Linked DNA regions of Homo sapiens. The protein of the gene in region 2 purifies or fractionates together with the protein of the main gene of each other region. This does not show direct contact. Each region holds a gene or a part of one and is shown on either strand. Other genes may lie near its edges.

Region 1 (7,090 bases), on a different chromosome or scaffold from region 2:
TTCCTATTCTACATCTCTCCCAGGCTGAGCCCAACTACTCCTAAGGCTGCAAACACCAAAAACACACCCAATTCACCATCTTTCCACACACTTCTCCTGTATTCTATCTTGAAGGATGATACCACCTTCCTTCCACCCAGTGGCTGGAATCAGTCGTCTTTAAATCTTCCTCAGCAACACAGCTAATTAGCCACTGAATTTCATCTTTTTTTCTTATCTCACAAATCCTTTCCCCTCTATGTCCAGGGCACACTCTTCAGGCCCTCTCCAGGTTTGCTAGAATTGGGTGCCTTATGACCCTTGTCATGCCACTCTCTAATCCAGCCTTTCCCATAACTGCTTCAAAATACAGATCTGATCATTCACCCTTCTGCTTAAATGCCTTCTCTCACTGCCCAGAGACTCTGAGGCAAAACCCAAAGCATTAACACCCAAGAAACCTCATCAGCCTTATTTCTGGTATCTCCCCAACTTAATCCTGTACATTTCAGCCCCACCAAACTACTTGCCCCTTTGCTCTCACATCGCCATGCTTTTACACATGCTGTTCTGTTTCAAATACCTTTTCTTCCCACCCCAACTTTTCAACACATTAGCCCTGGGAGGCACCTCCCATGGGAAATTTTCCTCAGCCTCCCCAGTCTGGGCTAAGTGTCCTTCCCTCTAGGAACTCCACTATACTGTGCTATTATCGTCTACGAATGGTGGATGGAATCAATAATAATAAAAAAATGGATCCTATCTCCCTCTTCTACATGACATCACTTCAAATTCCATGTGTTCACCCTTGGCCTTTCTTCTCCAGGCTAAATATCTGAATTTTATCAAATACGCCTCATGATATGGTATTCAAAATCCTAGTTCCCTTCCTCTCTCTCTAGGTCCCTAGTTCTCCCTCTAGTTTGGCAACACTGTTTTAAAGGATTTCTATTTTTGTTTCTGCCTGGAATAGAGAAGTCAGAGCTCTTAAAGATGTTTTCCACTACATCACATTTAGTCATTGTGGAAAATAATAACTGAACCTCATCTGACAAGACTGAGCAATTCAGAAGCTGACAGGATCAGGTTCTTGTTCTGTATGAACTCGGCTATGCTAGTAAGGAAAACATGTTCAAACCATGTGCAGAAGCAATTATTTTATCTCAGACCCAAAACAAAAAAGCCTATACCTCACTGAATCAAAATAATATCAGTCAAAATATTAAAACATGGAATCTCAATAGATGTTCAGTTAAACCACAGGATCAAAGGGAATATTTTTAAAATTTCAAAAACTGAATTAAAATTAATTCCCTCAAAGTATCTCAGTAGATCAGAAAGACCTTTCCAGAGCCAGAAACAGAAGAAAGAAACAAAGAACTCGAAAACGTTTGGGGCATGGATACAACGTAACTATCATTAACACACAAAACCCCCGCACCTCTAGGGACAGAGATCTGCAGATTTCAAGAGCATACTGGTGCAGAATTAAATCGCCATTCCACAAGCAGGACCTCCCAACACCTCACATAGGTTTTTGGTTTGTTTGTATGTTTGTTTTTGCTTCTGAGACAAGGTCTGGCTCTATCGCCCAGGCTGGAGTGCAATGGCGCGATCTCGGCTCACTGCAACCTCCGCCTCCCGGGCTCAAGCGATTCTCGTACCTCAGCCTCCTGAGTAGCTGGGATTACAGGTGTGCCCCAACACACCCGGCTAATTTTTATATTTGCAGTAGAGATGGCGTTTTGCCTTGTTGGCCAGGCTGGTCTCAAACTCCTGACCTCAGGTGATCTGCCTGCTTCGGCCTCCCAAAGTGCCGGGATTACAGGCGTGAACCACCGCGCCCGGCCTCCCATAGGTTTTAAACTGACACACTGAGATCAGAGCACCCATTCCTCCAAGCCGTTCTCAACTTGGCCTCTTGTTCACTACTGTCTGTGCCTCCAGTCTCAGTCCCCATCACTCCCACATTCTCACACAGTAATAGCGTTACTTGTGCAACACAACATATATAATGGAAAAGGCCGATGCGCTGGCACCACCTCATCTGAAATCAAATCCAGCACCCAACCTGTTTAGTGTTGGGTAATTTATTTAGGTTGATCACCCTGCAAAACAAAGATGATGCCCTCTAAGGACTGCTGTCAAATGAAATACATTACCACATGATATGCAGTAAGAGGCCACGTATTAGCTGATTTCTTCACCTCTTGCTGAATGCTTAGGAATCTAGGTTCTACTCAGAAAGCTACCATTTATTGACATGTGACCCTAAAAATGCGACTCACATCCTGTTTCCAAATCCTTAAAATTTGGAACTCTGACAAACTATTGAGAGGTGCTTTGTATTCGCCTTAAGAAATATAAGTCATATAAAAATAATGACTCCATCTCAACTTTTGCATCCGGAAATATACATAAGGGAAGGGAGGGGCAGGGATTTCAGCAATTACTGATGACAACCACTAGAAATGAAGGCACCATACAAATGCAAAAACATCGTGGCAGCCAGTGGCAGCTAAAAAGTCTGCCTTCTCTTCTTCGCAGCGGGCTGCGACTCAATCCCAGTTCACTGAGAAATGCATCTCCGTACTCTGAAGGGCCTTTTCAGGCGCAAGAAGCCGGCCGGACGCGCCGCCCTCAAAGTGGAGGGTGGAGGCAGGCTCAGGGGCCCCCTACGCAGCCCAGCCCCGGCCCCGGCGGCCCGTGAGGCCGCGCCGCCACGGCCGATCCAGAGAAGATGCTGACGGGGACGCGGCTGAGGCGAGGCCGCCGCTGACGGACCGCACTGCGGCACCTGCCTCGCAGCTACTCGCCCGCGGCCGCCCCCGACCCCCAAGCCCCGCGGCGCAGGACCTCCCCAGGCACGTCCTGCCGGCCCCCGGCTCCTCACCCGCCACCAACGCCAGGAGCACGACAAACACAGCCATGGTGCCGCGGCGGCCGCAGCACTGCGGGGCGACACGGAACGGGCCGGCGGGACACGGGCGACAGCCGCAGCGTGAGGAGGTGACGCGCTCGGACTCGTCCAGGCTCCCGGGTCCCGTCCCTTCGTCGCTTCCGCTGGGACAGCTGCCGCTTTCTCCACCAATCACCAGTTACGCCGCGGCCTACGGAAGGGACGTAACCTGGGAAGCGACAGCCTGATAGGCGGGACTTAAAGTAACGGATGGAGAGTTCTACCAATGGTAGGCAGCGATTGAAAAGTCGGGCAGTCCCGCCCCCCGGTCGGTGATGACGGGTCAAGAGGTGGAGCGTAGGGCGGGTAGTCGGAATGGGTGATGGAGCTAGTCGAGGGGTCCCGGAGCCCACGGGGTGAGGGTGCCTCCCGAGTGCAGATCTTTCTGCCAGTCTCGAGCGACGGTCTCCAACCAGGGTGTCTGTCTTTCCTGGTCGTGTGCCTCCGCCCGGCTACGGACGCCAGCTGTGAAAGGCGGGGCTGGTTGGGGTTTCGCTCTAACAAGTATACAGACGCCGAGCACCTACTGGGAAGAAGCCAGGCGCAACGGGGAACCCCTGCCTTCCACATAGTGGTGCCAGATAAAATACAGGGCGCCCAGTTAAATTTGAATTTCATGTAAACAACGATTATTTGTTATTATGTCGCAATTAATTTATGGGACATACTTGTATTAAAAGAAGTATTACTGGTTATCTGAAATTCAAATATAACTGGGTATCCTATATTTTGATTCGCTAAGTCTGGCAACTCTACCTCCAAAGACTTTCCAATCTACAAGGAGTCATGGGACAGAAAGTTAATTAATTACTTAATTTGTCCATTCACTCAGTTTCCAATCTGGGCAAGGTGTTCTATGAGGATGTATGAAGGCTAGACATAGTAATTAGACCAGGCTCCTCCCCTCCCGCAGTTCATAGTCTTTTGCCTATGATGTGAGGCAAGAAGGGACACACTATAGCGTCTGTAGGTAGAAAATGACGCCCCAGCTGATGACCTTGAAAGGTGGAAATGATTTCATATCCAAGGATAGGAGATGGGGAGATTGTTCCAGTGAAAACTGTAGTTAAGGTGGGGAGAAAGCCCCGTCAGGTTAAGCATCAGTAATCAAATAAGAGATTATATGAGAGAGGAGGCACAGAGCTAAAACTTTCAGTTAGGCACATTTATTGAGGATTTTAAATTGTACATAAGAGACCTACACTAAGCCATTGAAGGCGTTTGAGCATGATTTACTGCACAAATGTAAGACAGACTTATTGGCGGGGGGGAGGGGGGGAATGCCTTACTGTTTCTTCAGTTTCCAGTCCCATTTTCTTCTTGGAGTTTCCTGAGGATGAAAAAATGAGAGCGAGTTAAAAACAGTGACCCCAGGAGTTCCCCAGGTAGCAGACCCACCCTAGGAAAACCTTGCCCAACTGAAAACTGAATCAGAAAGACACTCTCGAGGCCAGGTGTGGTGGCTCACACCTGTAATCCCAGCGCTTTGAGAGGCCGAGGTGGGAAGATCCTTTGACACCAGGAGTTGAAAACCAGCCTGGATAACATAGTGAGGCCCTGTCTTTTTATTATTAGAAAATAAAGAAAGCAAAAAAAGAGAAACACTCACTAAATAGTTTGAACTTTCTAGAACACACTATGCTTACCAAAGCCACTCTCAAATTTAGGGAACAGAGTCGATTTCCTCACCTAACGTCAAGAAACAGGAAACTCTCAAACTTGCTTTTCCTCTAGAGGAGAATTTGTACAAATGGGACTTTAGAGAACTCTGAAAGGGAGAAGAGAGATTTTTCCATCAGGCATGTGAAATTATTAGAACCAAAATGTCTAAAGCACCCCTCCAAAACATCCACTCTAATGTGACTGACTCGAAAAAAATTAATCACTTTTTTTGTTGTTGTTGAGACGAAGTTTCCCTCTTGTTGCCCAGGCTGGAGTGCAGTGGTGCGATCTCAGCTCACTGCAACCTCCAACTCCCGAGTTCAAGCAATTCTCCTGCCTCAGCTTCCCAAGTAGTTGGGATTACAGGCGCCAACCACCACGCCCGGCTAATTTTTGTATTTTTAGTAGAGACGGGGTTTCACCATGTTGGCCAGGCTGGTCTCGAACTCCTGACCTCAGGCGATCCACCCACTAAAGCCTCCCAAAGTGCTGAGATTACAGGCGTGAGCCACTGCTCCCGGCGGAAAAAAATTAATCATTTTTAAAAATTCATTTTTAAGCATGATAAATTCACAATCTTTTCACACCAACTAAAATTCTTTGTCCATCTCCCTGCATGTCTTAGAACAGGTTTTGAATCACAGGCCCTGCAAGAACTTATCTAAACCTTATTTAGGGACATAATCAGCTAAAAGTGGAGCAGACCTCCTGCCATTTCATCCAGCTTAAGGAAACAGGGAAAGGAGTGAATGTTTCTGTTCTTAAGACTTCTAGTACATTCTTATTTCTTTGAATTTGAGGAAGATGAAAAAATTTGTAAATAGACTGGAATATAAAATAAGTCCCCACCCCCCCATTCCCCCAGAAAACCTCACAATCTTTCACAATCCATTTATGTCTTGAGAAATAACATCCCCTTTTGAGCTAACAGCGAATAGTGTATTCTTTACACCTAAGGGCCCTTTTCACCTGAGGTTGCAAAGGGGCATTGTTGTTCTCTACAACCTTGGAATTTAGCAAGATAAACATTGTCGGAAGCCCTCTCCTTGTTTCATAGATTGAGAGATTGAAGCCTAGGGAAGGGCATATGTACTCAAGGTCATATTCTGAATCGTCAGCAGTTCTGCTTCGTGAATGCAGCCCTGCTGATTCAATCTTTAGCGCTCAGTAAACAACTGGTGATGTGCGGTTAACTTTTCCACTGAAGCATTTAGAGATGGATATGTGTGTAGCAGGGTAATACAATATTTGAAGTTATGACCCCATTTGTTAGCCTAAAAGAAGCCTTTCTCCACCCTCCCCACAGGCCAAATAGGCAAGACTGCAGCCATCCGTTGCCCTGAGGGGAGGACTCTCAGGAGAACCTGAAAACAAATGTCAAATTCTTGGCTCTTGAGTTTCAAAACTAGAGGTCCAGATGCAAGATTTGAAAGAATACATAATTCCATTTGCTTCCTTAAGTCTCGCCCTCGTCCCCCAATTAAGTCCAGCAGTGAGTTCTGAGTGATCCCGGAGTGAGCGCGATAACATGAGCTGATCCCTGCAAATGAGACATCCCATCCAGGAGCCCTGTGGAGGCGAAGATCATGCCCCTCTCCCAGACCATGCAGTTAAAATTAAGAATTTATGTTCTTCAAAAGGTACTATATACACTATGGAAAGGTGTGGGGGAGGGGAGAGCAGCTTTGCAGTGCAAAAACCCAACAAATACTATCTAGGCGATGTGATCAAGGTCAACACCAACAGTGATCGGTCATGTTGACAGTGTGTGCCCTTGATGTGATACAATGATAATGGCAGGCACTTCACCTCTATGATCTTCCTCCCCCATACCCATAACCCCAGTGTAATCATGAGAAAAACATCAGATAAATGCCAATAGAGGGGCATTCTACAAAATATCTGACTGCTGCTCCTCAGAAGTCATCAAAAACAAGGAAAGTCTGGGCTGGGCGCGGTGGCTCACACCTGTAATCCCAGCAGTTTGGGAGGCCTAGGCGAGTGGATCACTTGAGGTCAGGAGTTCAAGACCAGCCTAGTCAACATGGTGAAACCCCATCACTACCAAAAAATACAAAAATTAGCCAGGTATGGTGGTACGTGCCTGTAGTCCTAGCTACTCGGGAGGCCAAGGCGGGAGAATCGCTTGAACCTGGGAGGCGGAGGTTGCAGTGAGTCAAGCTTGTGCCACTGCAATTTAGCCTGGGCGACAAAGTGAGACCCTGTTTCAAAAGAAAAAAAAATTAGCCAGGCATGGTAGCGCATACCTGTAGTCCCAGCTACTGGGGAGGCTGAGACAGGAGGATCACTTGAACCCAGGAGGTTGAGACTGCAGTAAGTCAAGATCTCATCATTGCACTCCAGCCTGGGTGACAGAGGGCAACGCTATCTCCAAAAAAAAAAAAAAAAAAAAAAAAAACCCAGAAACTATATTTTTAAAGAATCCAGCATAGATGACAAAAGTTTAAAGAAAAGCAAGGAAATGGTTAC
Region 2 (7,651 bases):
GCAGGTGGCGGGGGGAGGGCGTCTCCCGGGGTGTGAGCAAGAAGCCGTCAGGGAGCAGGGTGTGGGTCACAGTAGGGGACTCCCTGGTGTGAGCCTGTCCCTCTGCCTCCCTCTCCAGGCACCAACATGATGATGGTGGGCGTGCACGGCCCCAAGACCCCCTGTGAGGAGGTGTACGTGAAGCACATGGGGAACCGGGTGTACAATGTCACCTACACTGTCAAGGAGAAAGGGGACTACATCCTCATTGTCAAGTGGGGTGACGAAAGTGTCCCTGGAAGCCCCTTCAAAGTCAAGGTCCCTTGAATCCCAAAAGTGCCTCCCCAGCCTCAGCCCCCACCTCCAGCCACACACACATTACACACACACACACACACACACAAATGTGCCACACCCAGACACGCACAGAATCAGACACTACAAACACCTGCCTTGGGGGTGAAGTGAAGGCCCAGCCTCCCCACCCCACCGCGCCCCAGGGGTTGGAGGACCTTGTCTGTGTCAGGACAGTGTCCCTCCCTGGGAATGTGACATGAGGGCCGACTGGGGCCAGGCTCAGGGGCAGAGGCTGGGACACAAGGGGCTGGCGAGGGCTGCGAGGCCAGGGAAGCCCTGAGTTTCTGGCGGGGCTGAGCAGTGGGGGAGCATTGTGTTGTGGGTGTCTGTGTGTGAGGTCACCCTCAAACTGCACCGCCGGCCAGATACCCTCCTGACCCCGAGGACTTGGTCTGGTCTCTCTGGTGGCTACAACCCCAGAGTTTTAAGGACTTGGAAAGGAAAGCACAATCAGAGAAGAAAACAGCCCCCGAACCAGCAGGAGTGGCCTGGCACATGGACCGGCCTGAGCGATGTGCACTCCACCCAAGCCAGGCTCCCAGGGGGCCTGATTTCTCTCTCACTGTCTCTTTTTTTAAAATGGTTGCACGGCTCTGCCCCATGGGGGGCCTTTTTTACACACTGCGAGGCCCAGCTTTCTAGGGGACTTTTGCACATGTCATGCAGCTCAGCTGGGAGCTGCTTAGGTGGAAAACTCCAAATAAAGTGCGGCTGTCGCAGAGGGTTGGCTGTTCCTTGGGGGTGTGCTCTGTGTGGCTGGCTGCCCTCTGGCCTGCCACACGAAAAACCGGGCCCTGGGGAGGCAGAGGCGGCCTGGCTGTTCCCTGGAAGATTGACCCAGTCGAGGGAAAGGTCCTGGGGCAGAAGTGAGGTCTGGGATGTTGGCAGAGTGCTTGAAAGAACCGGGGGTGGGGGCTCGGGGATGTGGGAAGGGGTCCCAGCGGGAGGGTTCGTGGACAGTACAGGGTGTGGATACTGTGTTCTACAGTACTGTCCCAGGACCCCTGGGAGGCCAGTTTCAGTTCAGCTTGACCTCAAGGATGTTTTTCAAATTAAGACTTTAAAACAGTGAGCACTGACTCAAACAGGAATATTCCTCAACCAGCAGGCAGGCAGAACCACCTGCAGACTCAGCACCTTCCCCCTAGTCAGTTCCTGAATCAACTTGGCCTGTTTCATGCCCCTTTCCAGCACTAAGCTTGCACAGGGCCTCCCTCCTGAACTCCTGCAACAGCCCTGCCCTGGCCAGCTCCCTCCAACCTCCCCTCCATGCTGCAGCTTGGCGGGGGGGTCACTTTAAAGATAGTATATGCCCCTCTCTGGTTTAGGGCCATCTGTGACTCCCTCCTGCTCCAGAGTAAAGTCTCCTCTTCCTGACAAGGTCTCCAGGGCCACCCAGGTTCAGACAGCAGCCTCCCCAGCCATATGAGTTGGGCAGCAGGCCCACTCTCCATTGTGCCCTCCACCTCCAACCCCCCTTCATTACCTCTGGGCACCCATGCTGTAATTTGGGCCCTTGCCCGGAAACACCTTTGCCTCCCCACCCTCTTCATCTTCCTGGCCAACAGGAAGTTTTCCTGGACCCCTCCCTACCCCTCCTGGATCAGTGCCCCCAGCTCCCAAACTGCCCTGGGACACATCTCTAGTTGCAGTTACGACCCTGAGCTGTGGCCATGTATCCACGGCTCCCCACCAGATGGAGCTCCCTGGCCCTGGGTGTGAATGAGTGAGTGAATGGGTATGAATGAATAAATGAGCAGCTGAGTAGCTGCAGCAGGGAAAAGAAGTCTTTCATTCAACTGATCCCACAATCTAGACCCACCTGGGCATTTCAGCACATGGTGGTGGGCTTGGCAGAAAAACCCACGAGTCCCCAACTCCTAATCCCTGACCTCCCCACCTCTCTCACCAGGCTCTGTGCTTCCTCCCTCTTCCCTCACACCCTCCCACACACCCATCCTCACTCTCTGCCCCCCTCACCCTCACCCTCACCCCTAGATGTGCTAATTTCCCCCTCAGCTTCGGCTGCCTCCACCTGTGTGTGGCTGATAAGCTCACAGACCTCCAGCCTGCCTGCTTCCAGCCAGCCACAGTGTGGCCCTGGGTGCTGAGCCTTACAGGCCCTTCCTCATTAATCCTCATAACAGCCCTATGAGGTGGGGCTACTACCATCTGAAGAAACCAAGGCCCTGGGAATTTCAGTGATGAGTCTGAAACCGTACCTTTAAGTAGTGGGGCACAGATTGAAACCCAGGTGTGCCCGAATCCCAAGCTTATCACACATACAATCGCTAGACCAGACCACGGGCACGTCTCAAGCACTCCAAACTCACAAACCCCATGCCAGACACCGGGAGTGCTGATTTGTTAAAAGGGAGGAGGAAAGAGTGGCTCCTTCCCCTTCAGCCTGCTCATCTTACAGAGGTCACTTTCTTGGCAATGTTACTCCCATCCATGTGCTGCACAGGCCAGAAACCTGGAAATCACCCAGGTCTCTCTCTCTACCTCACTCCCCAAACACATCCACTCTGAAACCAGTTTTGTCCTAAATATCTAAATATCTCTCGGCTCTACCTACTTCTCTGCGTTTCCCATTATCACCACCTGAGTCCTGGCCACCATTATCTCTCACAGTGGCCTCCCAATTTGGTTTCTCCTCCCTCAGTTTCGCCTCTGCACACAGCACAGTCAACAGTGAGTGACAGCTCTAAAACGTAAGTTTGGCGATAGCACTCTCTTACTTGAAATCCCTCAGCAGCTTCAGGATAACTGTCCTCAGGATAACTTCCAGATCTTTTTTTTTTTTTTTTTTTTTTTTTAGACAGAGTCTCACTCTGTCACCTAGGCTGGAGTGCAGTGGCGCCATCTCAGCTCACTGCAACCTCCCTTGCCCGGGTTCAAGCAATTGTCCTGCCTCAGCCTCCCGAGTAGCTGGGACTACAGGCACACACCACCTCACTGGGCTAATTTTTTTTGTATTTTTAGTGGAGATGGGATTTCACCATGTTGGCCAGACTGGTCTCAAACTCCTGACTTCAGGTGATCTACCCGCCTCAGCCTCCCAAAGTGCTGGGATTACAGGCGTGAGCCACCGCGCCCAGCCTGCAGATCCTTTTTTTTTTTTTTTAGACAGGGTCTCGCTCTGCTGCTCAGGTTTAAGTGCAGTGCCGTGATCATAGCTCACTGTAACCTTGAACTCCTGAGTAAGCCCTGCTGCCTCAGCTTCTCGAGTACCTGGAACTATAAGTGTGCACCACCACGCCTGGCTAATTTTTTTTTTTTTTTTTTTTTTTTTTTTTTGAGACAGAGTCTCGCTCTGTCACCCAGGCTGGAGTGCAATGGCACAATCTCGGCTCACTGCAACCTCCGCTTCCCGGGTTGAAGCAATTCTCCTGCCTCAGCCTCTCGAGTAGCTGGGACTACAGGCGCCCACAACCACGCCCGGCTAATTTTTTGTGTTTTTAGTAGAGACGGGTTTTCGCCATGTTGGCCAGGCTGGTCTCAAACTCCTGACCTCAGGTGATCCACCTGCCTCAGCCTCCCAAAGTGCTGGGATTACAGGTGTGGCGTGAGCCACCATGCCTGGCCTTACCAATTATTTAACTTTCCTTGAAGGCCCTACGCTCTCTAGTCAGTACGCCTTTGCACATGCTGTTCCTCTGCCTAGAACACCGTCTTGTCCTCACTTCTATCCCCTTCATCCTGCAGGTCCTTCAGGTCTCAGCTTAGATCTGAAGCAAGCTTCTTGGGGAAGGGTTCTTTGGACGCCCCCTCTCTCCATGGGTTAGTTACCATGGATGTGTGCTTCCATATACTTTTCACATTCTAACCATTAACACACAGCTTTGTAGTCGCCTGTTCCCTTGACTTTCCACCTCACTAGGCAGTATCATCATTAACTTTTGCATTCCTTTAACTGAACAAACGTGTGTTACTTGTTAACTATGTGTCATAGTTACACACATACATACACGATAAAGACCCAGACCCTGCCCTTGAGATGAGTAACTGCGTCTCTTCTCTGGGGTCTCGGCGTCTAACAGCGTCAGGTCCAAAGCGCTTGTTGAACGAATGAACCAAGGAACGAGTGAATGAACGAATGAATGCCCGCGAAGGACGTGGTGCCGCGCGGTCTTCTGGGAATCGTAGTCCCCTGGTTCGGGCCTGTCTTTACGGCGCAGGCGTATTCACATGGAGGCCGTGTTGCTGTTAATGCGCATGTCCCGGAATGCGGCTGGGAGGACTGCGCATGCTCGAAGGGTGGGGGTTGAGGCCGACGGGGCGCCGTACGGCGGAGGCGGGGTTTCAGTGGCTTCTGGTGCTCTAGGGTGAGCTCTGCCCGGCTGCAGGGATGGCGGGGAGGGGTAAGCTCATCGCAGTGATCGGAGACGAGGACACGGTGACTGGTTTCCTGCTGGGCGGCATAGGGGAGCTTAACAAGAACCGCCATCCCAATTTCCTGGTGGTGGAGAAGGATACAACCATCAATGAGATCGAAGACACTTTCCGGTACGGTACCGCGCGAGGCCTGAACGGGCCCTTCTGCTGCTCGGTGGAGTGCGGGGCGAGGCTGGAGGCTGCCCGGACGGGGGTGAGGGGACGATCCTGAAAGTCCTTCCGCCCTTCCGGAGCGGAGGCCTCCGCGCCCCAAGTCCCCGTTTGGGGCTCGGTGGGACAGAAGCTGTATCAGGTCCACGAGCCCCCCCACCTCACATGATCGTGTGTCATGAAAGAAGGGGAACAGAGCTCGTGACAGCCTAGACAGTGGGCTTGGACTTTGTTCTGCTTTCTCCTCCTTTAGAGGCTCACCATCGTCCCGTAAGGCAGGGATGATTTTTGTCCTACTCACAGGTGAGAAAACTAAAGCTCGGAGAGGGTAAGGCACACACTAAAGTTACGAGTCGGCAGAGGCAGAGCTAGAATTTGAACCCAATCTCAACCCTTTCTGCCTCCGGTAAGCCAGGTACACACTCTTGGCAGGTCTCCTCAGGCGGCCTCGGAATTTCCTTGTAGTCTTGAGCACAGTAGGCAGAAATGTCGGGACTGTGAGAGCCTTCTGCTAAGACCTTGCACTCAAGCCCTCACTGCCTGCCTTAGGTCAGAGTGTGGGTGCAGGCATGCTTTTAATCCACCAGGGGTCCTGGTGACTGGAATTAAGGATACCAGCCTCCTATTTTATTCCTCACCCCTTCTCCAGGGCCCCTGTACCAAGTCTCAGGAATAAACCACTCACCTGTTTCCCCCAAACAGTCCAGCCCAGGGCTGCTGGCTGAGACTGGTTCCTGCTGCCTGGTGTATTAGGTAGTCCCTGACCTGGGAGGCTGTTATCTGCCATTCTCTAAGCTGTCTGGTAAAGTGACCCAAGTTATCATGGGAGAAGGACAAATTTTACTTCAAGAATTTTTTATGTTTCCAACCAAAAGGGACCTCAGAGATCAAATCTAACCCAGTGACTGGCAGGGGGTGGGTGCTCAGTAAGTAATTTTTAATCAGTAAATAAACGAATGAGTCTGGGTGCAGTGGCTCACGCCTGTAATCCCAACAGTTTTGGAGGCCGAGGCGGGTGGATCACCTGAGCTCGGGAGTTTGAGACTAGCCTGACCAATATGGTGAAACCCCATTTCTACTAAAAATACAAAAATTAGCCAGGCGTGGTGGCGGGTGCCTGTAATCCCAAGAAATCAGGAGGCTGAGGAAGGAGAATTGTTTGAACCTGGGAGGTGGAGACTGCAGTGAGCCGAGATCCACCACTGCACTCCAGCCTGGGTGACAGAGGGAGACCCTGTCTCAAAAAAATAAAAATAAAATAAACAAATGAATGGGTGGGTGACCACAGGAGAGAAGGAGCACAAGGCCAGGTTCTTTTTGTGCAGAAAGTGTGATTCCTTCATCAAGGTGTCCTCTTCCTAGCTTGTGATCTTAGTTCATGCCAAACTTTCCCTCTGACCCCTCCACCACCCTCATCAGGATAGACCTTGAGGCCTTCAGTGGTCTCATCAGCCCTATTTTTAAATAATTTGTTTTCTTTTTAAAAGTTAATGTGTCTTTTTTTTTTTTTTTTTCTGAGACAGGGTCTCACTCCTGTCACCCAGGCTGGATTGCAGTGGCGTGATCGCAGCTCACTGCGGCCTCGACTTCCCAGGCTCAAGTGATTCTCCCACCTCAGCTTCCTAAATAGCTAGGACTACAGCTTCCCAAGTAGCTGGCACATGCCGCCACATCCAGCCATTTTTTTTTTGTGTGTATATATATAGATAGATAGATAGATCCGCCACATCCAGCCATTTTTTTGTGTGTGTATATATAGATAGAGAGAGAGAGAGAGAGAGAGGGAGATGGGGGTCTCACTATGTGGCCCATTCTGGTCTCAAACTCCTGGGTTCAAGCAATCCACCTGCCTCGGCCTCCCAAAGTGCTGGGATTACAGGCGTGAGCCATCACAGCTGGCCTTCAGTATCTGCACATAAAAAGGGATCTGCATACATATAATCTTATCCTTCCCCTTTCTGACACATCACTGCATATTGAATACACCAGTGTGCACCCTAATCAATCTTCATTACCAGTTCACTTGGAAGCCTTCCGGGCAGTGTTGTAGAAGCCAACCCTAATCAGCGTGACCCTCCGCTTTGGGATGAAATTGATTCTAGGTAGGGTTGACAGAGGGTTGAGCGTGGCAGCCTTTCCCCTTGTCCTCTGTGCCCTCTGGGTCATGCTCATTCCCCTCCACAGCCCAGCCCAACAACTCGGAGAGGGCTGCCTGGGTAGGAGAGACGGCAGCCCCCAGAGCTGTCCTGGACTCCCTTCTCATCTCTCCCCACAGGCAATTTCTAAACCGGGATGACATTGGCATCATCCTCATCAACCAGTACATCGCAGAGATGGTGCGGCATGCCCTGGACGCCCACCAGCAGTCCATCCCCGCTGTCCTGGAGATCCCCTCCAAGGAGCACCCATATGACGCCGCCAAGGACTCCATCCTGCGCAGGGCCAGGGGCATGTTCACTGCCGAAGACCTGCGCTAGGGGACTCCTCATAGCCCTCAGCCCTTCCCTCGTTTCCAGGCCTCTCCCCAGGCTTGCCATCAGCCTTCTTTACTTTTTGAGCCTCTGATTTCCAATTCCCTGCTCCTTCCCACTCCATTAAGAGGCTAGGTGAGGCGCTTCTAGGTTGCTGGGGCTCTGCTGGTTAAGGAACAGGAAGCCTGACCATCTCCCTCCACTACCTCTTCCCTGTGCTGTTACACAGTGTCATTGTTGATGTTAAATTAAAGTCATATTCTTGCTTCTCTCCAGATGGGTTGGGTGCTGGAAAG
Region 3 (6,630 bases), on a different chromosome or scaffold from region 2:
ACATAAACTTCAGACTCAATGGTAATATACAGTTCTTTGACACTGCTTCTTCACTCCTTTGGAAATTGTTAAAAATACAACATTTAAGGAAATAAAATATATCCTACGTACCATAATGAATTGCTACAAAGGATGTTGCACATTGTTATATTGGACTTTAAATTGGCTTGCAAAATCATAAATTACAAGGCTTTAGTTTACTTGTTAAAAACTGAAGAGTACCACTGATTTCCTTGCACTTAGAAGTGAATTTATAGAAACCATTCACTTTCTCAAAGTAAAATTCAGAATGGGATGGGATTCTGTAGATTATATTTCCAAAACATAGTGTGATACAGTTATGGGACTTTTTGCAGGCTATAATGAGGGCTCCAATTCAATTTCATAATCTTAAGTAACAATCTATAAAAAAGGAAGGAAAAAATTTTAAAAGGTCATACCAAAACATTAAGTCAAGATACAAGGTACATATTTTCTAGCAGATTGTGCCATAAAAAAGAGAAAAAGAAAAAAATGTTAATTTAAATCCACTTTTTATTCTTTCACAGATTTTAACAATTATACACAACTTTTAACATAAAGGTAGTGAAATCTCAAGGATAAGGAGGCAATATATATGGCCTCTTCTATTCGTTATTCAGGATGGAAGGAAATTTTCAAAGTACAGTGTGTGAGATTCAACACTGGAAAAATACATATGAAACTTGTTTAATTGGCTCCACTTAGGACCAGACACAGCACAATAAATACAGAACTGCATCATCTTTTTAAAAGATCATTGTAATTTTAACACATTCTTACTAAAGAAATACATACTATCAGTGACCGATCTGAAACTCTGTAACAGGTGAAGGGAGACTTACGATGAATATCTGAGCATAGGTTCGCTAGCATCTTCACACTCATACATAAACATTCTTAAAGGGAATAAGAATGATTTCAAATTCAAAACAACAACAACAACAAAAAAACAAATTTGGTCAAACTTTCTTCATCATACCATTCATTGCTATCACAATCCTAGTTTGCTGGTAGGTTTAAGAAAGGAATAGAAAGTTTTTGAAATCCTTTTAATTTCTACCAGTCTTAGGGCCTCTTGAGTAGGCCACTTTGGAAGCAAACTGATTAAACAGCACCATCAAGTCCGTATCTCAACAAACCATTGCATAATTTCTGTCAATGTTCTCAAAGGTTAAAACAAGTTGTATAGAAGAATACCTTTCCTCAATAGCAGGCCACTGTAAAAACATGTAATCTGCAAGAATTTAAACAAAACTATCCTGAATTCTCTACTGATTGCTTCTTTCCTTAATAGACCAAGAGATAGGCATTACCTAAAAAATTAAATAATAATATACTGAGGCATAAAATAAATACTTTATTTATGCTATCACAATTTGGGTATTTGAAGATTGTTAGCCATGTTCACACACCCTTTCCTCTTCCCAAAGAGGAAGCAACGGTGCCAGCACTATTGGTCAGAAAGAGTTAATGGGAAACTGTTGCTCTCAGAGCTGTTCTGCAATATGCAGACACATAAATTATTATTTTAAACATATACTTAAAAGACGGATAAAATGATTTTTTTTCATGTGACCCAGATTCTGTTATCAGTAGATACAAAATTAATTTCATTCCTATTAGGATGGAAACTGGTATGCTGCTGTGGCCATAGATATTCTGAGAAACCTCTTAAGCCAGTGAACCAAAAACCATATGAAAGAAAGTAATACTTTCTATGATTGGTCAACTGGCTGTTCAAAAATTCAACAAGCAAACAAACATGCAAACATGTGACATATGTCATTATTTTGTAAAAACATAATGCCACTCTGGCCCCAGGAATCACTACAGCCCAGCTGGTCCTTAAAGGTGCAAACAGCCTTTAATTGCTACTAAACATCTTCTCTGGTATTTTACTGCCCATCACACTTGCCACATGATTCTCAGAAGCTTAGGCTTCCAAGATGTTTAAGGAAAATAAACAGGGTGTGATGTGGATCAAGTTTTCAGTGATTGTTTTAAGTGTCATTTTAAAAAGAACTTCCTAGTAATGAAGTATGTAATAGTCCTTGATATTAAATTTTTTCTAGTGAAATAAACTATGCTTTAATAAGACAATGTTGCTCTAAGTTTGACCGCCTGATTTTTTTTTTCTCTTTTTTAGAGGGTACTATTTCATATATTGTGTGAGCCCCACAAATGTCTATTTTAAAAAGAGTATAGTCCCTGGCCAGGCGCGGTGGCTCACGCCTGTAATCCCAGCAGTTTGGGAGGCCGAGGTGGGCGGATCACCTGAGGTCTGGAGTTCGAGACCAGCCTGACCAATATGGTGAAACCCCGTTTCTACTAAAAATACAAAATTAGCTGGGCATGGTGGAGCATGCCTGTAATCCCAGCTACTCGGGAGGCTGAGGCAGGAGAATCACTTGAACCCGGGAGGCGAAGGCTGCAGTGAGCCAAGATCACGCCATTGCACTCCAGCCTGGGCAACAAGAGGGACACTCCGTCCCCAAAAAAAAAATAATAAAAAAAATAAAAAATAAAAATAAAAAGAGTATAGTTCCCAATGGTTTCTCACAAACATTCCTGATTTATACTGGGGGAAGTGATGCATAATTGGAACATTAATCATTATGTTTTTGAAAATTAAATATTTCCTGCAAAGCAATTCCTTTGCAAAATGCTAAGCTGCCAATGAGCTTACCACAATAGAAATTGAGTCATTTCACAAAGTACCTGTTCAAAAGTTATAGAAACCTGGCCTTCCATTCCAAATTCACTGCAAAGAGAGTACATGCAGTAGTCCTGTTTACAATTTAATAGAGATGAGGAAAGGGTACACCTAGGACAAAGAGGGTCATCACCCTACATACAAGTTTACAGTAGTGTAACCAGAATGTATATTTACTATATTCACCACTTCAGATAAAGGAAGAGGGAGGCCCTTCACAACACTAGAACAAAGGAATGTTTGTTTTATATAAGACCTACCAAAAAAACAGGGAAACAAATAACACACATAGGCACTAGTCTCAAAGCTGCACAATAAAGAAGCAAAGGGTTTGAGATGAGAAATTCAGGAAAATATACACATAGGAGCTTGCTGAGGAAAAGGAAATCACAGTTGTAATCTTCAAGGCTTCTAATCTTCAAGGCTACGGAATGCATTCTGCATGTCTTCAAGAAGTTGTGCATAGTCGCTTTTGATCTTTGCCTCACCATCTTTCAGTGGATCCTGAAAGAAGACATTACAAATTCAACTCGCATTTGGAAAATAATTTTCATTACGTATGTTAAGTTACTTTTTTTTTTTTGGAGGCAGAGTCTTGCTCTGTCACCCAGGCTGGAGTGCAGTGGCACGATCTTGGCTCACTGCAACCTCCACCTCCTGGCTTCAAGTGATTCTCCTGCCTCAGCCTCCCAAGTAGTTGGGATTACAGGCGCCCACCATCACGCCCAGCTAATTTTTTTTTTCATATTTTTAGTAGAGACAGGTTTCACCATGTTGGCCAGGCTGGTCTTGAACTCCTGATCTCAAGTGATCCACTTGCCTCGGCCTCCCAAAGTGCTGGGATTACAGGCGTGAGCCACTGCACCTGGCCCAGGTTACTCGTATTTTATATATTTTGAGTACTAGGTTTAGTGAGGGACACTGGTAAACCACAGGCAGGAGGTAAAACTATACTCATTTTCCCTTTTTCTTAAGGATACAAATCCAACCAAACAGAAAGAAAACAAAATTTTAATTTTGCATTTTGCCTGATAACCACATTCAGTGACCAAAGCCTTTATCCTCAACAATGTGCACAATAGTGGGAAATTATGCCGCTTCATATATTAGATGAACATGACTTAATGCATGATAATTAGGAATTAATTTAATCAAAACAGAATTTGCTCAACATCTGGTATTATCACACTGGGATGGAAAAGTAAAATTTAGGCAACTTACTGAGTAATATGTATAAAAGATAATTTAGCTAGGCTTGGTGGCTCACGCCTGTAATCCCAGCACTTTGGGGGGCCGAGGCAGGCGAGTCACAAGGTCGGGAGATTGAGACCATCCTGGCCAACATGGTGAAACCCTGTCTCTACTAAAAATACAAAAAAATTAGCTGGGCATGGTGGCGTGCACCTGTAGTCCCAGCTACTTGGGAGGCTGAGGCAGGAGACTCGCTTGAACCCAGGAGGCGGAGGTTGCAGTGAGCTGAGATCGCGTCACTGCACTCCAGCCTAGTGACAGAGTGACACTCTGTCTCAGAAAAAAAAAAAAAAAAAAAAAGAGACAGACTTTAAAATGTTCCAGGTCTCTAACCCAATCATTCCACTTCTGGGACTCCATACTAAGAAAATGCACAAAACCAACTACACACAACTACATGGTTGTCCACACCAATAACTGGAAATTTTCTTTTCTTTTCTTTGTTTTTTTTTTTTTTCAGACAGAGTTTTGCTCTTGTTGTCCAGGCTGGAGTGCAATGGTGTGATCTCAGCTCACCGCAACCTCCACCTCCCGGGCTTAAGTGATTCTCCTGCCTCAGCCTCCTGAGTAGCTGGGATTACAGGCATGCACCATCACGCCCAGCTAATTCTGTATTTTTAGTAGAGACGGGGTTTCTCCATGTTGGTCAGGCTGGTCTAGAACTGACCTCAGGTGATCCACCCGCCTCGGCCTGCCAAAGTGCTGGGATTACAGACGTGAGCCAATGCGCCCGGCCAACAACTGGAAATTTTCTAAGTGTCTAAGAATAGAAAAATATTACTCTCCAGCCACAAAACAATGCTACAGAAGAGTAATGACATTAAAAAATACCTGTGATGTTAATTTGACACAATAAGCATGTAAATAGAAATCATCATTACTACAGGTATATTTCTTCTTCATCCTCTTTCTATGAATATATAGTTTTTTAAGACAATATTTGGATCAAGTTACATATGGAAGTTTTTTCACTCTGTGCCATAAGCATTTCTCCATGTCTTTGAATATTTTTGACAAAAATGGTAATGCCTTCATAATATCTATCTTATGGACACACCATAATGTACTGTTGGCTCTGTTCATTCTTGGGTGACATTTAAGAAATTTGGTTTAGCGTAGTGGCTCATGTCTGTAATCCCAGCGCTTTGGGAGGCTGAGGCAGGCAGATCACCTGAGGTCAGGAGTTCAAGACCAGCCTGGCCAACATAGAGAAACCCCCGTCTCTACTAAAAATACAAAAATTAGCTGGGTGTGGTGAATGCACCTGTAATCCCAGCTACTTGGGAGGCTGAGGCAGGAAGAACTGCTTGAACCTGGGAGGGGGAGGTTGCAGTGGGCCAGGATCGTGCCACTGTACTCCAGCCTGGACAACAGAGCAAGACTCCATCTCAAAAAAAAAAAAAGAAAAAAAAAGAAAAAGAATTTAATAAACGACCGTGTATATCCGTATCAAAATTCTGATTACTTCCTTTGTTTATTTATCTCAAGGTGAAATGACAAGACTAAAAAGGTGTAAATGTTTTTAAACTCTCAATGTAGTGCTTACCTATTTGTACAGGTTTACTTTCAATCTATAGTGTGAACACACACACAAAATATATATATAATTTAAAAATTTTTATATTACATATACACTCAGAGAATCATTCTCAGTAGGTGGTTAGTAAATATGCCTGGATGTCATGACAGAAATAAATACAATTCAACTGATCAAATATTTTAAAAACAATCTTATACATTTGAGTTCCTACTAATAATTTCATTTAATTATCTATTTTTATCTTGTGTACTTCCAAAAGAACAAGAGGCCACTTAAAAGTTAAAAAATGGCTGGATGCGGTGGCTCACGCCTGTAATCCCAGCACTTCGGGAGGCCGAGGCGGGTAGATCACATGAGGTCAGGAGTTCAAGACCAGCCTGGACAACATGGTGAAACCCCGTCTCTACTAAAAATACAAAAAATTAGCTGGGCGTGGTGGCAGGCACCTGTAATCCCAGCTACTTGGGAGGCTGAGGCAGGAGAATCGCTTGAACCCAGGAGGTGGAGGTTGCAGTGAGCCGAGATTGTGCCACTGTACTCCACCCTGGATGACAGAGCAAGACTGTCTCAAAAAAAAAAAAAGTTAAAAAATGACCTGCAGTACATGATATTTAAAAGAAGTAAACAGAGAAGATGTCATTTCAGAAGAACACATGTGCTAGAGGTTAATAGGCACTTGGAGTAAGGCAACTGTTGCTCAGCTATGAAGTAAGCTCTAATTTGCCTGGCAACTAAGACAAAAGGGAATACACATCAGCATTTATTTTAGACGTGACATACTAATTTTTTTTGTTTTTTGAGACTGGGTCTCACTGTGTTGCCCAGGCTGGAGAGTAGTGGTGGGATCATGGCACACTGCAGCAGCCTTGACCTCAGCCTCCCAGATAGCTGAGACTACAGGTGTGTGCCCCACACCTGGCTAATCTTTTGTATTTTTTGTAGAGACGGGATTTCGACATGTTGCCCAGGCTGGTCTTGAACTCCTGGGCTCAAGTCATCCTCCTGCCTGAGCCTTTGAAAGTGCTGGGATTACAGGCATGAGAACCACTATGCCTGGCTGATATACTAATTTTTATCATTAGAATTCCTATTTGAACATAACTTT

The links.
Region 1: the proteins of ATP6V1F (region 2) and ATP6AP2 purify together in Homo sapiens (affinity purification with mass spectrometry; 5 studies listed by BioGRID and IntAct, with this or other methods). This does not show direct contact.
Region 3: the proteins of ATP6V1F (region 2) and ATP6V1A fractionate together in Homo sapiens (co-fractionation; 3 studies listed by BioGRID and IntAct, with this or other methods). This does not show direct contact.

The regions. Positions count from the first base shown.
Region 1 is NC_000023.11:40,576,885-40,583,974, reverse strand, and holds the start of ATP6AP2 (renin receptor precursor), read right to left. Parts: upstream 3,006-7,090; 5' UTR 2,910-3,005; coding exon 2,873-2,909; intron 1-2,872. UniProt on the Homo sapiens protein: Multifunctional protein which functions as a renin, prorenin cellular receptor and is involved in the assembly of the lysosomal proton-transporting V-type ATPase (V-ATPase) and the acidification of the endo-lysosomal system.
Region 2 is NC_000007.14:128,858,218-128,865,868, forward strand, and holds ATP6V1F (V-type proton ATPase subunit F), read left to right. Parts: upstream 1-4,638; 5' UTR 4,639-4,687; coding exon 4,688-4,845; intron 4,846-6,902; coding exon of another isoform or gene 6,903-6,986; intron 6,987-7,159; coding exon 7,160-7,361; 3' UTR 7,362-7,630; downstream 7,631-7,651. Other genes in the region: FLNC (filamin-C), read left to right, coding at 119-306. UniProt on the Homo sapiens protein: Subunit of the V1 complex of vacuolar(H+)-ATPase (V-ATPase), a multisubunit enzyme composed of a peripheral complex (V1) that hydrolyzes ATP and a membrane integral complex (V0) that translocates protons.
Region 3 is NC_000003.12:113,805,943-113,812,572, reverse strand, and holds the end of ATP6V1A (V-type proton ATPase catalytic subunit A), read right to left. Parts: intron 3,239-6,630; coding exon 3,146-3,238; 3' UTR 517-3,145; downstream 1-516. UniProt on the Homo sapiens protein: Catalytic subunit of the V1 complex of vacuolar(H+)-ATPase (V-ATPase), a multisubunit enzyme composed of a peripheral complex (V1) that hydrolyzes ATP and a membrane integral complex (V0) that translocates protons.